2 separate regions of the Homo sapiens genome follow, and region 1 is linked to region 2. A link means that fine-mapping ties the variant in region 2 to the expression of a gene that starts in the linked region. Tissue or cell type: esophagus mucosa. Region 2 holds a variant in brackets; the other region holds the start of a gene. All regions are shown on one strand. Distances are between the middles of the regions.

What was found. PIP is the estimated chance that this variant, and not a neighbour inherited with it, causes the effect.
Region 1: it holds the start of REPS1, and the variant in region 2 is fine-mapped to the expression of REPS1 in esophagus mucosa (GTEx, PIP above 0.99).

What each region holds. Positions count from the first base shown.
Region 1 is chr6:138,985,057-138,993,162 of GRCh38, reverse strand. It overlaps REPS1 (RALBP1 associated Eps domain containing 1), which reads left to right and starts at 4,910. Exons shown (of 20, transcript NM_001286611.2): 1 at 4,910-5,633. The coding sequence starts at 5,481. RefSeq lists silencers at 4,679-4,918, 5,109-5,408.
Region 2 is chr6:138,830,907-138,839,012 of GRCh38, reverse strand. ECT2L (epithelial cell transforming 2 like) reads right to left here. Exons shown (of 22, transcript NM_001077706.3): 5 at 499-661. Among named protein-coding and RNA genes, the nearest start is that of ECT2L, 39 kb to the right of the region's middle. The variant T/C (reference allele first, on the strand shown) is at 4,295.

The DNA.
Region 1 (8,106 bases), 150 kb before region 2:
AGGAGAAGTGCTGAGCAAAAGGGGAAAATCCCCTTATGAAACCAACAGATCTGCTGAGAACTCATTCATTAACAGGAGGACAGCATGGGGGTAACCGCCCCCATGGTTCTGTTACCTCCCAATGGGTTCCTCCCACAACACATGGGAATTATGGAAATTACAATTCAAGATGAGATTTTGGGTGGGAACACAGCCAAACCATATCAAGGAGCAAGTATTTTTTGTTTGTTTGTTCTTTTTTTTTTTTTTGAGACGGAGTCTCGCCTTGTCACCCAGGCTGGAGCACAGTGGTGTGATCTTAGCTTGCTGCAACCTCTGCCTCCCGGGTTCAAGCGAATCTCCTGCCTCAGCCTCCTGAATAGTGGGGATTACAGGCGCACACCACCATGCCCAGCTAAATTTTTTTTTGTAATTTTAGTAGAGGTAGGGTTTCGCCATGTTGGCCAGGCTGGTCTCGAACTTTTGACCTCAGGTGACCCACCTGCCTCAGCCTCCGGAAACGTTGAGACTACAGGTGTGAGCCATCGCGCCCAGCCTAGGGTGCATGCTTATTTGAGGACTGGAACGTGAGAGTGAAAGGACAGCATGTTATGGACTGAGAAAGAAGTTTCAGAGTTCCAGAACTTGGAAGTGAAGCAATCCTATAATTACTTTGGGTTGCTAAAGAGGAGTGGTGCTGGAGGTTTCTAAGGTTAAGGGTGCAAAACTAGGAGGAGATTAGAAGGTAACAGGTCCTTCAATAGCAACATTGTTTCATTATAACATTGATGAGAAAAAATAAATGCATTCCCCGTAGGCACCACTGTCTGTGTGAAGTCTGCATGCTCTCCCTATGTCTGTGTGGGTTTTCTCTGAATCCTCAGGTGTCCCTCCACATCCCAAAGATGTGCACATTAGATAAGTCAGGGTGTCTAAATGGTCCCAGTCTGAGTGAGTGTGGATGTGTGTGTGTGTGTGTGTGTGTGTGTGTGTGTGTGTGTGTGTATACCCTGTGATGCAATCACATCCTAGACAGGGGCTGGGTTCTACCTGTCCCATGAGCCACTGGGATAGGCTCTTGCTACCCACAACCCCGAAATGGAATAAGTAGGTAGGAAAATGAATGAATATAAGTGACTGAAAAATAAAAATGTGTAAAGCATATGATGATCATACAGATGCAAAACAGTAAACAAGGTGGTGCCAGAGAGCTCAGCAAGCCACCATGTTTGTGATGATTTTGAACTTCACTTTGCAGACATTTATTCCTTGATTTAACCCACCACCAGGACAACCGTGGTAACTCACCAATATACCAAAAATAGGGTAAGTAGTTATTTTTTTTTTAGTTAATCATTTTAGTTGCATGTGTAGCTTACCTTTACTTAAATGTTTAATATTAGAAGTGTTTTGGTCTCGATTTAGAAATTTGGTGATTCTGTGACCAGAAATATGTCACAGCAACTTAACTCTTGTTTGTAGCAAATTATCAATTAGCCTATGATAAAATTGGTTTCGTGATACCGTAACCAAGTGCAGCCTTGGCTGTTTGCCCTTTGCAAACCCAATAACAAGGGGTGAAAGGAAAGTGACTTTATTTTTCAAAGCTAGCAGTGGGGAAACAGCCAGCTTACACCTCTGGAAACTGCTTCAAAAGTCTGGGCTGAAGGCAGAGGTTTCAAAAAGGGAACCTTGATATGGGAAACATGCAAGAGTTGTGCCGGGAGCCCGGGCTGTGTGTCTTGCTTCAACGCCTATCTTGAGTTATGGTCCATCTAAAATGCAGGCTGGCGTCATCTCGCCTGTGGCCAGGCTGCAGATTATCTATCTTGAGGCAATCTTTAAGTGGGGGACAATTCTGCAGCTGGGCCTTTGTGCCTAGTTCATTTTAAATTAGCCCCTGGAATTTTTAAGAAGCATACAGTTAGATAAATGTGCATTGGGTAAGGGAGTACATTGTGGGAAATAGAAGGGAGTGGAGTTTCAAAGTATGTTTCAAGGCTATATTTTAAGACTAAAGAGAAAAGGTTTCTACAGTTTGTTTCAAGGTTACAGCTTGAGACTGGCAAGAAAGGAGAAAAGAAAAAAGTTTTCTTTTGAAGCTAAACTACTTGGTTAGAATACCTTGTTTTGCTTAAAATTAGTTTCCACGGACCTATCCACAATAACATTAATTGAGGACTTACTGTATTGAATGGCTTATCACATCAATGTCAAAATTGATGCTTTCATTCATTCAACAAATTATTATTGATACACATTATGTGTCACATACTGGGCTTTGGCACTGTGGCAATGAAGAAATATTTTCCTTCTTTTCTTGCTTGCTTGCTTTCTTTCTCTCTCTCTTTCTTCTTCTTCTTCTTTTTTTTTTTTTTTTTGATACAGAGTCTCGTCCTGTCTCCCAGGTTGGAGTGCAGTGGCACAATCACTGCTCGCTGCAGCCTCTATCTCCTGGGCTCCAGTGATCCTCCCACCTCAGCCTCCCGAGTAGTTGGGACCACAGGTGCACACCATCATGCCTGGCTATTTTTGTATTTTTGGTGGAGATGGTGTTTCACCGTGTTACCCAGCCTGGTCTTGAACTCCTTAGCTCAAGCAATCCACCCACCTCAGCCTCCCAAAGTGCTGGGATTACAGGCATAAGCCACCATGCCTGGTGAAGAAATATTTTCTTAATAACAAACTTAACAAAGAAATTAGACAGGCAAGATAGGGTAGTGATTTTTAGAGTTGAGACAGCCTGGAGTTTGAATCCCAGATCCGGGTATTTAATAGCAACATGACTTACACAATACTTAACCCATTTTGCCTCAGTTTCCTAATCTGTCAAAAAAAAAAAAAAACCTAGTAGTACCACTTAATAGGGTTGTTGTGAATAATGTGGTTATTAGTGTAAAGCTTTAGAACAATGCCTGAAACTTAGTAATTATTCAATAATTAGCCGTTAAAAATGTAACAGCTATATATGTAATGTCAGATAGTGAAAAGTGTTATAAAGAAAAAGAATTCAGGTTGGGTGCAGTGGCTCATGCCTGTAATCCCAGCGCTTTGGGAGGCTGAGGTGGGTGAGCCCAAGAGTTTGAGACCAGCCTGGGTAACATGGCAAAACTCTGTCTCTACAAAAGCCACATACACAAAATTTAGGTGGGCATGGTGGCCTGGGCCTGTGGTCCCAGCTACCTGGGAGGCTGAGGTGGGAGAATCACCTGAGCCTGGGAGGTCGAAGCTACAGTGAGCCAAGATTATGCCACTGCACTCCAGCCTGGGTGACAGTGGGAGACTCTGTCTCAAAAGAGAAAAAAAAGGAATTCAGATAAGGGGATAGTGCATGGTGGGATTATTTTACAGCAGCTGTTGCAGGAAGGCTGCTCTGAGGAGGTGACATATGAGCAGGGACCTGAAACCATATGAGAGAATACGCCATGCCATGGTTTGTGGAAGGACTATTTTAGATGGCAGGAACAAAGGCCCTGGGGCCGACAAGAGCTGCAAGGCCTAGGAGAGGTGGCAGAGAAAAAGATGCAAAGACAATTGTGAGCCAATCCCTACCCCATTGTGCTCTTTCTGTTTACACCTTTGGAAGGCAGCTGTCTGGGGGGGGTCTGATCACTTGCTGCAGGTGCCCTGAAAGGACACATGAGGGGCTGCTGTAGCAAACTGAAAGTCTTAGAGATGGGAAATAAGCTTAATGGATAGTATATACTTACCTTTATCAAATACTACTAGTCAAGTCAGAAGACATTGACAGGTCTAAAATCCCTTATCTTTCTTAAAAAATAGAAAGATAATAGAATGCCTGTGACTGTGTACATATTAACATTCTACAAAGACCTGGAGTGAAATGAGTAAATATTGACACTAAGTGGGATCCATAAAGGCTAGAAATAGCTTCATGCAAGCTTAGTTTAGATTTTGCCTCCAAATGAGGCAGGGCAGGTTTTACTTCCAAAGGGTTACAAAAAAAAGTCTTTGGGTTTTCAGTGCGCTTTGAATTTTGCAATTACAGATAAATGACTGGGAACCTGTAATAATTTCCTCATATGTGTCATTTATAGGATCCGCACTCTGGGAAACAACTTGTAGAAGACAAAATAAAAACCAGAACTCTGGGTAATTCTGCCTTAGCTCCCGTCTTTGAAGTATTTTATATTTGCTAAGTATAAATTCTTAAGATATTCTACTTGAAATAGCTGAAGAATCCCCTCTCTGGGACAGGTGCAGATTAAAAGAGCGCCACTCCATGATTTTCATAAAGGAGAAAATACGGAAGGCAGCCCCTGTGGGCAGCCCCGGGCCTACATGAGTTGATAGAGTTGAAGGTATAAATGTAGAGTATTAAGTTCCCAGTGACCGGAATGACCTGGTGAACAAAGAGGACAACTTTGCCAGTTTTCCCCTCTATTCAGCACATTTTGTTTCTCAGGTAAACATGGCTTGAAGCACGAGTGAGATGAAGCCTCAATGTTGGTGTCTACGTGGAGGCTTCCCGGATAGCCAGGATGTTCATAGCCCGGATGTTCATAGCCCTTCAGAACAGATGGAAATACTGCATTTATCTTCATCTGTACCGAAAAGGTACAGATAGAATGATAATAACCTGAACAAGGCTCCCCTTTCAATCCAATTATTCAGACGCTTAGGACCAGAAACTGCGAAACATAAAAACTGCAACCCGGATCTTAGTTATCTCGGTCTTAATGAGCTGCCGGCTGTTTCCCACTGCACCCCCCTTTCCGGGGGTCTTGCTGCTGAGATCTCCGCGCAGAGGGCGGCTCGGTCATCCCGCCGCCGGGCGCCGGCCACCAGGGGGCGCTGCGGCCTCCTCCCTCTCCCGGGAGCGGCCAAGCCAGCCCGGTGGGTGTTTCTCTCTCCCTCTCGCGCTCTCTCCTCCCGGCCTCACATCCGGGTCTGGAGCGCGGCCGCCGCTGTCACTGTTGGTGCGGGCGCGTCGGGGCCGGGCCGGGGCACTGTAAATGGCGGCGGAGGGAGGCGGAGCGGCGGCCACGCTCAGCCCAGATCCCCCGAAACTTTAGGTTCGAAGCCCCACAACTTTCCGGGAAGCGCTGCCGCTCCGGAGGCGTGGACGGAAGGGGAAGCCGAGGCGGGAAGTCTGGGGGAATCGGCAGGGAGCCGGGGAGACTCGAACCCGCGGCGGGGGCGGAGTCCGCCAGTGCCTCGCGCCTCCGCGGCCCCCGCCTCTTTCTCTGCACCCTCCCCGCGGCCGGAGCCGGAGCCGGAGCCGGAGCCGTAGTCGCAGCCGCAGCCGCAGCCGCGCGCCGGGCCTCGCAGGCAGCGGCGCGGCGAGCGCAGCCGGGCCCCCTCCTCGCGACCTCCGGGCCCTGTTGCTCGGGCGCACCTGGCGCGTGTGAGGCCGGGGCCGGCGTTTTCGGGAAGCTAGCAGGAGGCCGGGCCACGCGCAGCCCCTGCCGGCCCAGGTTCCTGGGGCCGGGCCCCGAGTAGTGCATGCGGGGCGGGGCGGCCGTGAGCCGGAGGCGAAGATGGAAGGCTTAACGCTGAGCGATGCGGAGCAGAAATACTATTCAGATCTCTTCTCCTACTGCGACATTGAGAGCACCAAGAAGGTGGTGGTCAACGGGCGGGTGCTGGAGCTGTTCCGGGCCGCGCAGCTGCCGAACGACGTGGTCCTACAGGTAACGTCGCGTCCCGGGGCCGGCGGGCGGCTTAGGCCTGCAGTCACTGGCCTCCAGGAGTGGGAGTGGGCGCCGATTCCTTGGGGCCCGGCGGGGGGCTGGTTCCTCGGGGGGTCCCCGCAGCGGGCAGGGGCCGCAGGTGCCCGGGAGGCCTGGACTCGCGCCGCGGCCAAGGGGGAGGGGGTTGCCCTTAGAGGACGGAACTCCTGTGGTGGGGGTCTGAAGAGCCTCAGCCGGTATCCCCCACGACCCTGAGAATCTGTGCTCTGTACTGCAAGAGCTATCTCACTTGAAGGATCTTAGGTTGTTAATGTGTGTGAATCCTAGAACCTGGCATATAGAGAGCTTTTCGGATCCTGCAGAGTAGTAAAGTTATCAGTATGGGCAAAATGGTTTTTTTAATTCTTGGATTAACCGAGAAGACGTGATAAAGTGAGTTCTATAGATTTAGGAATCGAAGAAGCAGTTTTTTTAAAGGAAGCAAAATTCTTAGGGAAATTTTTTAAAATGTGAACTACTTAGTAGTTTTACAAGTAGGCATACAAGAAGTTGTAATTATCTGTAGAACGTGTGTATGTGATGAGACTGAACAATGTTTTTCAACAGGCATTCGAAAGCATTTGTGGAACTTGTGGATTTGGGTTGGGAGATGAGTATTGAACAGCTGGTAGGCAGAAGTGCGTTATTTGCCCTAATCTGAAGCCCTGGAGGAGCAAACCCTGTAGGTTTAAAGCCTTTTTTTATCATATCTGCTTTTGAAACAGAGGACTTCCTAGAAGTTCTTATCTAATGTATGTGGTGAGCATTAATGCTACTCTGTTTAATGATTCATAGCTGCTAGTAGGAGTCTGTCTAAACAGTATGTTAGGAACAGGTTTTAAGCTTTCATCTTTTATATTGATCCAAGCTAGTTATCCACATCTCCAAAATTTAAAGCCACATGTATAGGTGTATGTAGTGGACTGCAAAGCATTGGACCAGGGTTTTGAAGGCTGGGTCCTTGACCCTACTCTGCTGTTAACCAGCAGTGTGACTTTGGGTCAGGCACTTTCCATTTTCAAGCATAAGTATGTTCATCCACAGAATGAAGGCAAGTTTCTTCCAACAAAAATTCTGTGAAGAATAAAAATGTCCACACACAGGTCTCTGTTTTAGAAGTTAAGTCTGCATTAACTATGACTAAGTTGAACGAGTTCGATCTTTTTAAATGGTCTTGTGTTTTACATTGCTTTTTTAAAGGTGGGATGTCTTACGTGCCAGTGAAGGGCAACGAGGAGTCCCAAATTCATCCTGTTGAAAAGGGACAAATAGTAAATATTTTGGGCTTTGCTGGCCACATATGCTCTCTGTTGCATATTCTTCTTCTTGTGTTTACAAAACACAAAAATGTAAAGCCATTCTTAGCTCAGGGAGATACAAAACAAAGCCTGTGGTCTGCTAACGAAGGGTGCTGGTAGTGTGGTCTATGGTACTCTCCTGTTACAGCTTTGGAGTAGGACTTAGAGATCTGGTCAGAACATGCTCATTAATCATACTCTTTTTGCTCCTTTTGAAGAAATAACAAAGTATACCTTCAAGTTAGGATCTAAATAAAATTAAGGAAAAGCCTTCTCTGTTCTATTTTAGTTTGTCTTTGAGGTGAGAAAGAGTTGAAATAAAACTTTCAATCTTTTTAATGGGTACACAAAGACTTTAGAACTTGAAATGTAATTTTTAGGACAGACACATTAGCATTAATGAATCTTTACTTCAAACATGTTTAATTCAGTGCAAGTTATTTTTATGTTTTGCTCAATTTTATTAACATTCAAAAAATAAATTTCCATTGTCTTTTGGCATAAAGAGAGAGCTTAAATATTCAGGGTTCAGTTACAAGTTGGAACTCCCTGGAGCAGAACTCTTACAGTTATGTATACTAAATAGCAGTCTAGATATCTTGAAGGCAATTTACTTAAAAATTGGTCTAAGACATAGAAATATGAGACAAAAGGAGAATATGTGCTTAATTCCCTTAAGGGAGTTTGGGATTGTCTGAAAACACAGTCCTCCATTGCTTTCTAAGTGGGAAACATTTGGGGCAGCTCATATCTAATGCTTAGTTCTCTACTTAACACTGGGCTAGGCATTGCAGGCATCAGAAGAGGAGTAAGAAGCTCTTGAGGATCTTGTCAATTATAGGAGTGCTCATGTATAACATAAGGTATAATGTATGCCATAGGAGAGGTGCCAAGTGTTATGAAATGCTAAGGAGGTATGACCAAGAAAGGCTTTTTGACTTAATTCAGATGGACTTTAAATTAGGGTGGAGTGAGGGGAATGGAATTATGAGGGCTTCCAGGCAGAGAAAAGTGATCAGAAGTGGAAAGTGTAGGAGCCTTTTCAAGGACTAGTGTTTTCGGGATAACAGAATATAAAATTAGAAAGAGGCCATATTGGGAAAGACTCTGAAGAAGGGCAGCAGATAACGATATTT
Region 2 (8,106 bases):
GTCAGGAGTGCGAGACAAGCCTGACCAACATGGTAAAACCCCGTCTCTACTAAAAATACAAAAATTAGCTGGGCGTGGTGGCACGCGCCTGTAATCCCAGCTACTCAGGAGGCTGAGGTGGGAGAGTCACTTGAACCCAGGAGGCGGAGGAGGTTGTAGTGAGCTGAGATCACGCCACTGCACTCCAGCCTGGGCAACAGAGCGAGACTCCGTCTCAAAAAGGAACTTCTTTAACCAAGATAAAATGTTTTCTAAACAATTATACTGAGTATTTAAAGATTTTTTAAGTAACAGGAATTATTGGACTAGTCTATATTCCTTATTTATAGAAATACATTATTGTATTTCACTTTTCCCCATTTTTTCTCTCAAGGGTAAGTTAATGATGGATCAGGTACCCTCAGCTATTGTCTTCAGGGACGGGAGCTACCCCAGTAGCCTCATTACAGATTACAGCTGTACTTGTGCCCTATTACTAGGAAGTGGCAAATAGTAAACCTGTTCAGTTAAAAACTTCCAGGGCCAGCTGACTTGGGCAGCGGCACACAAATCTTTCGGACTCAAAAAGGAAAAGATATATAGAGAAATGAAGCGTGGTAACACTGTAGAGAAGTCCACTTTGGCCACTTGCATCCTTTCTGAAAACCAGTCTTGGACAAACCTAAAAAGAAAGAGAAATTTAGTTTAGAACACTAATGTCTAAAATTTACTAAAAAGTCAGCATAAATATTGGTCATTGATCTTCCTCCAATGTTCTACCTATAAAAAATAAATCCTAACAAAACATAAATCTAGATTTAAAAAATTTTCAGGCCAGGTGCCGTGGCTCATGCTTGTAATCCTGGCACTTTGGGAGGCCAAGGTGGGTGGATCACTTGAGGTTAGGGGTTCAAGACCAGCCTAGCCAACATGGCAAAACTCTGTCTCTACTAAAAATACAAAACATTAGCTGAGTATGGTGGTGCGTGCCTGTAATCCCAGCTACTTGGAAGGCCAAGGCAGGAGAATCACTTGAACCCAGGAGACTGAGGTTGCAGTGAGCCGAGACCGTGCTACTGCACTCCAGCCTGGGCAACAGAGTAAGACTCTGTCTCAAAAAAAAAAAAAAAAGTATTCACTTTGAATTATCCATTCTAAAAAGGAAGACAAAGAACAAGAATATCTAAAATTCACAGGAATAAAACAGTCTTGGAGTAAACCTAGTTTGATGTGATTTTCAAGAGAAAAAGACTATAAAACCTTTTCACTATCAATTTAAAACAACTCAAGATTTTTAATGGAGTTGAAATTCAAAGCAAAGATATATTCACTGAGATTTTCTTGTGTGTGGACGTTTTTGGGTTTTTTTAATTGTTGTTTTTTTTTTTTTTTGAGACCAGTGCTTCTAGAAGAAACTTATTTTTCCTTTTAAGTGGCTGCCTGTATTATAAGACCAAATTCTCTTCCCCACTGGACCTAACACACTATATTATGCGATTTATTTAATCCTTCTTTTGACACAAAGCTGGCCACATTCTGAAATGCCAGTCATTTCTCCTGAATGTGTAGCAGGTATAGAAGAGACTAGTGTGCTGTTACGGGTCAGTAACAGGGTTTGCTCAGCCTGGCGTGGCCACAGGAAGAGTGCGGAGAGACTCAGTGGGGCAATAGCCGTGTGCAGAAGGGGAGAAGGAGACGATTGCTTCTGAATGGCTGGAAGATTGGTTGTTTACAGGGGGTTGGGAAAAATATGAAGATTATGGGAGCTAGGTTTCTCACTTTTGGAAAAAGGATCTACAAGTATGTAAAGGAGGAAAGCTAGACTAATCTATATGCAGTTGGAGAGAAATTGGAGATATCACTAAAATCTCATGTTTTAAAATATGTATATAAATGAATGATACACAGAGACAGATGGCTGTATATGTACACGTGTGTACATATATTTCATGTTAGAGCACCTAAAAGCAATAACATCCCAGAAGCAATGAACACACCATAAACTCAGATCTTGGTTTCTCAATTCCGTTTCCTAATAAAACAAACCAGAGCTTACTGGAGAAATGGTATACTGATACCAGGGCAGGGACAAGGAAAGTATAAGATGGGTCTGGAACATTTTGACACCAGAAAATAAGGAAGTACTTAAAGAATCATGGACATACCAAAAGAATACAGAAGCTAATTTATTAATAAAGTCACTCCCACTGGCAAAATATGGAATAATTTGAGTATCAAAGTATATAATTAATGTAATATAGCCTATTGAATAAAACAGGCGTTCCTGAGTCCATACTGATATAAATATACCCATGAATGAATAAATAAATAGGGGAGAAGGAAAACTACCTCACAACAGAACACCAATTAGTACAAGCAGAAGGAATTAAGAAATCAGGAAATCACCACTTGGAGGCCATCATAGTAATAATTGCTTCAGGTAAGAATCATCAATGAGTGGCTCACGCCTGTAATCCCAGCACTTTGGGAGGCCGAGGTGGGTGGATCACCTGAGGTCAGGAGTTTGAAACCAGCCTGGCCAATGTGGTGAAACCTGTCTCTACTAAAAATACAAAAGTTAGCCGGGCATGGTGGTGTACGCTTGTAATCCCAGCTACTCAGGAGGCTGAGGCAGGAGAATCGCTTGAACATGGGAGGTGGAGGTTGCAGTGAGCCGAGATCGCGCCACTGTACTCCAGCCTGGGTGACGAGCAAAACTCCATCTCAAAAAAAAAAAAAAAAAAGATTAATGAATGCTAAAAGTAGTGGGTGAAAGCTTGATAAGAAACAGGATATTTACATAGAATAGTTTTTGATTACTTTAAAATTAATCAAATACTTTTAAATTGCTTATTAAATATAAATTAAGTACAAAATACTTAATTAGCTATCTTAACCAAGGGATGTAATCTCCAGCTATGGGACAAATTGATATGCTATGCCCCCCGACGCGATCCACTGAGAACACAGCATCATTTCCGCGCTATTCCTGCCAAGAAGGCATAACCTGAGCGTAATCTTGAGGAACCATCACCCAACCAGAAATCGAGGGTCATTCAACAAAGCAGCAGGCCTGTGCTCTTCAAAAGTATCAAGTCATAAGAGACAAGGAAAACCTGAGCATTTGCTCCACATTGAAGGCAGATCTAGAGACATGGAAACTAAATACAGTAGATAACCCTGGGCTGGATTCTGGACCAAATGGAAAAGGGTGATTATAAAGGACATTGCTGGAGCAATCAGGAATATGGGAATGGAGTCTGCAGGGTGGATGTAGTATTGTATCAGTGCTGATTTCCTGGTAATGCTGGATGTACTTTGATTTTTCAGCAGTGTGTCCTTGTGTTTTAGGAAACACACATTGACACACTTAAGGTAATGGGCATCATGTTCGTAATTTACTCTCAAGTGATTCTAAATAATAAGGCAAAAATGGTAAAATGTTAGCTATTAAACTGTTAACTATTTTTTTTTTTTTTTTTGAGACAGGGCCTGGCTCTGTCACCCAGGCTGGAGGGCAGTGGCGCAATCTCAGTTCACTGCAACCTCTGCCTCCCGGCCTCAAGCAATCCTCCCACCTCAGCCTCCCAAATTGCTGGGGACTCCAGGCATGCACCACCATACCCGGCTAATTTTTTTGTATTTTTAATGGAGATGTGGTTTCACTATGTTGCCCAGGTTGGTTTTGAACTCTTAAGCTCAAGCGATCCGCCTGCCTTGGCCTCCCAAAGTGCTGGGATTACAGGCTTGAGCCACTGCGCCTGGCCATAACTATTAAAATGTTAACTAAATGAGGAAGTCCAGGTGAAAGGGATAAAGACATTATTTGTACTATTCTTGCAACTTTTCTGTAAGTTAAAAATTATTGCAAAATGAAAAGTTTTTTTTAAGTGGCTAAAATTTTTTTTTTAAGTTTGCTTCAGTTCCAAGTTTTAACGATTTATTTTCTGTGTTCTTCCTCCCCTGGCCTTAAGTCACTGCTGTTTTTTTGATCCCTGTCCATGTAGCCTTGTCACATCCTGAGACAAAACAGAGTGGCGTAAAATGAACCTGTTGGCAGGCCGTTGTGAGGAAAGAGACAGAGAGAGAGAATGAGAGTGTGTGTGTGTGTGTGTGTGTGTGTGTGTGTGTGTGTGTGTAAACGGGGGCAAAGAATGGAGCCGGGCCTGTACTGGTAGCATGTAGTATCCACAGACAGAAGTGTCACTTGAGGATCTTGTCAGTATCAACAATAAAGCACAGGTAATAACTGTCATTTCCTTAGAGATTAACATTCAAGCTGAACAAGACTGTGACAATGCCAAGAACAGTTAAT[T/C]TCTAATGAATTACTGTCCTCATTGCCTGAGTTAGACTTCAGGATCATTTTGCTAGCCTTTGAGATAAGTTTTACTCTCATTTACTTGGAATTATAAAATACAGTAATAAAATAAGAGGCAAAACAGAGATGTTTCCGGCCTCCTTTCCAAAGAAGGGTCTCAGTATCTTTAGATTTTCATGTCTACTACCTTCCCACCTCACAGCATCTATTGTTCCATCCCAGCAGAGCAAAGGAGAATTGAATATGAATTACTTCCAAAAGTAAACCTTGGTTATACATGTTTTATATTTGTTCCTATTCTATGCTGCTACAAGGACACGTTTGAGTATAATGAATCTTAAGAAGAAAGAAAAATGCTTCCGTCACATTAAAAAAAAATACATGATCAGCAGAACTAAGGTAGGGTAGTTTGTAGTAATGACATTGCAGGGCTCATCACATTTTAGTTAATGTTGCAAAGTAAGAAATCTGTGAAGAGAAATAACAACATGTAAGGAGACAGTGAAAAAATGTGTTTTGCTCATTTATTGTGACGAGGATGGTGTCATTTAAATAATTCATGATAATGCTTTGCAGTGTGCCACTGAATGTACAATGTGTACTTTGCAAAAATAACAAAGCTTAGTAATGTGGGACTTGAATTTAATTATCTGCTCTTAAATTTCTGATAAGAAGTAGAAGCTGCCAAAATTGTGATGAAAATGACTAGGAGAACAGCTTGGAGAGAGGCCTGTGGAGGGGAGAGTGGATTTGGCAGAGGTCCCTGTTTTCTGGTTGCCTAGGTAGCACCTCTAAGCCTTGTCGGGTGGCTTCTTTACAAACACTTTTATGGCTTGGTCAGGGTCTGGGTGCTGTTCATACCCCAGTTTCAGTCCCTGGTGCATTTTTTTTTAATTATTTATTTATTTATTTTTGAGCTGGAGTCTTGCTCTGTCACCCAGGCTGGAGTACTGTGGCGTGATCTCTGCTCACTGCAACCTCCACCTTCTGGATTCAAGCGATTCTCCTGTCTCAGCCTCCTGAGCAGCTGGGATTACAGGTGCATGCCACCAAGCCCGGCTAATTTTTGTATTTTAGTGAAGACAGGGTTTCGTCACGTTGGCCAGGCTGGTCTCAAACTCCTGACCTCAGGTGATCCTCTGGTGCATGTTTTAATGGGGCCAAAAGGAGATGACACAAGGGCAAGGGGAACCATAGGCATCTGTGCAACTCCTGAGTTGCATGAAAAGGAAGACAAGTTGGTAAGTGACAAATACCGATGGCCGTACAAATGTGCTTTTGGATCCAACAATTCGTCTTCTAGGGGTTTTTCCTAAAACAATGATTAAAGATATGTCTAAGGATTTAGCTAAAGGATGTTCCTCTAAGTGTTGTTTTTAGTAGCAAAAGCTGGGGGAAACAAGTTAAATGTCTGAGATAAGTTATGGCATATCTATAAAATCTAATCTTCCTAGAAATCAGTAGACTGAGCTGAAAGGGGAATCTATGTGATATGGTTTGGCTTTATGTCCCCACCCATATCTCATCTCCAATTTTAATCTCCATAATCCCCACATGTCAAGGGAGGGACCTGGTGGTGGGTGAGTGGATCATGGAGGTGGTTTCCCCCACGCTGTTCTTGTGATAGTGAGTTCTCATGAGATCCAATGTTTTATTGGCGTTTGACAGTTCCTCCTTTTCTCTCTCTCTCTCGCCTGCCGCCAGGTAAGATGTGCCTGCTTCCCCTTCCACCGTGATTGTAAGTTTCCTGAGGCCCCCCAACCCATGCAGAACTCTGAGCCAATTAATGCTTTTATATTTATAAATTACCCAGTCTCAGGCAGTTCTTTATAGCAGTGTGAAATGGACTAATATGCTATGAACTAATTTCAAACAGCTAAAAGCACTGGGATTATGAAGCATAATCTCTTCAAATGGAAGAGTAATGAAAAAAGAAATCAGCAAGTTATAAATTAAAAAAAAAACAACAAAAAAACACAAGGACACTAAATGGGAGCTGAAATTGAGAAATTCACAGAAGAATTGGGCCCAGTCTTGATGAGTAGTGCTAGGCTTTCCTACTGACAGGAGTCCAGACCTTGCAGGGAAGAAGCAAGGAAGCACACCTTCTCCTGGGCTGCTAAAGGAAAGGGAGACCTGGGGGAAATCAGAACAGGCCTGTACCTTGCATGGGCTTAAGTCCATATTAAATCTCCTGGCACATTAGAGACCCTGAGCTACCATAGAAACATAAACGCTGGTGAGAAAATAAGAAACCCAAGGGGTTCCTGGAGAGGAAGATACATATGTGAACCATCCCATGTGCCTCCACAACCCAGGGCAGTTATCCTCCCTTTGGAAAATAACCTCAGACTAAAACACCATGAGGGAAGGCCAGCAAATGAAACAAACAAGGGATCCGTCATCTCCAGAACTGAAGGTAATGAAAGAATCCAAGAGATTTTAACATAAACATGCTGAAAATATTCAAAGAGAAATCAAGGTAATAATAGGAGTGAATGTTTGAAATGTTCATTTGGAAAAAAAAAAAACAGACATTTGAAGTAAAAAATATATAGTTTTTGAAATTAAGAGAAAACTGAGTAAGTTGGATAATAAACTTGAAACCAAAGGAGGGAAAACTAGAGAATCTTAAGCAAAATCTGGACCATTGAATATTATAAAGTCATTTAAAATGATAAAAAAAATTGAAGACATTTCACTTAGTTTCATGCACTATTATCCATAGGAGAGTTTCATGCAGCATACAAAGTTCCTGAAATATCTGGTAAATTTTATATCTATGCATATATATGTCTTTCCTGGGGGGAAGATTTATAGTTTTTGGTGTAATTTGAATATCTCTTCTCAAAGGAATACATGATCTAAAATTGTTTAATTAAATTGGTATGTGCATGTTTACTGTGATTGTACAGTTCACGGATTCACTTATTAAATCAACATTATTTTGAATCCCTTCTTACATTCTGCGGTTTTAATGAGACAAAGAAAAATGACACAATTCCTGCCTTTATGGAGCCTACAGTATGGTTAGGGACAGCACCAATTTTTAAAAAAATCTAATAAATAAAGGTGAAATTACAACTGTAGTTAATCTTCTGAAGAAAAAGTACATGTGTGGAAAGGCTTCCCTGCGGGAGCTAAGTGGGTTAAAGGCAACTGGGAGAAGAAGGCAGTGGAGGTAGAAGAGCCTCCTAGGTAGATGGCAATGTCAAGGGCAAAGGCAGCATCCCTGAGGAGCTGGATGAAGGTGAGTTGGGCTGAAGCACCAGGAACTATGGAGAAAGAGGGAAGAGGGGAAGCTGAAGGGGTGGTTAGAGCCATATCCCTGCAGGGCCTTGGATGCCATGTTAAAGGTTACAATTTTTTAAACTAAAACTTTTAAACAGGGGCATGATGACATGGTCTCAGTGCCATTTGAGAAGCCAACACTGACTGCACAGGGAGAGAGTCCAGAATGATGGGGAGACCAATTAGAAGGCCATGGCCATAGCCATAGCCCAGGCCAGAAATAATGGTAGGTTGGCCTAAGCTGGTATTGATAGAGATGTAGAAAATTGAACACATGAGAGATATTGGGGGTAAATTGATAAGTGGTGATTAGATGAGTCTTGGGTTTCTAACTTTTGAAACTGGATGGCTGGTGGTACCATTAAAATAGAGAATATAGTCACATTGTGCTTACGACGATTGTATATACTTGGACATGTTGGTTTTGGGGTGTTCTCAAGACATTCAAAATTAAATATCAAGTAAGCAGCTGGATATATAATTAGGAACTCAAAGGCAATGTCTGGGCCAAAGATAAA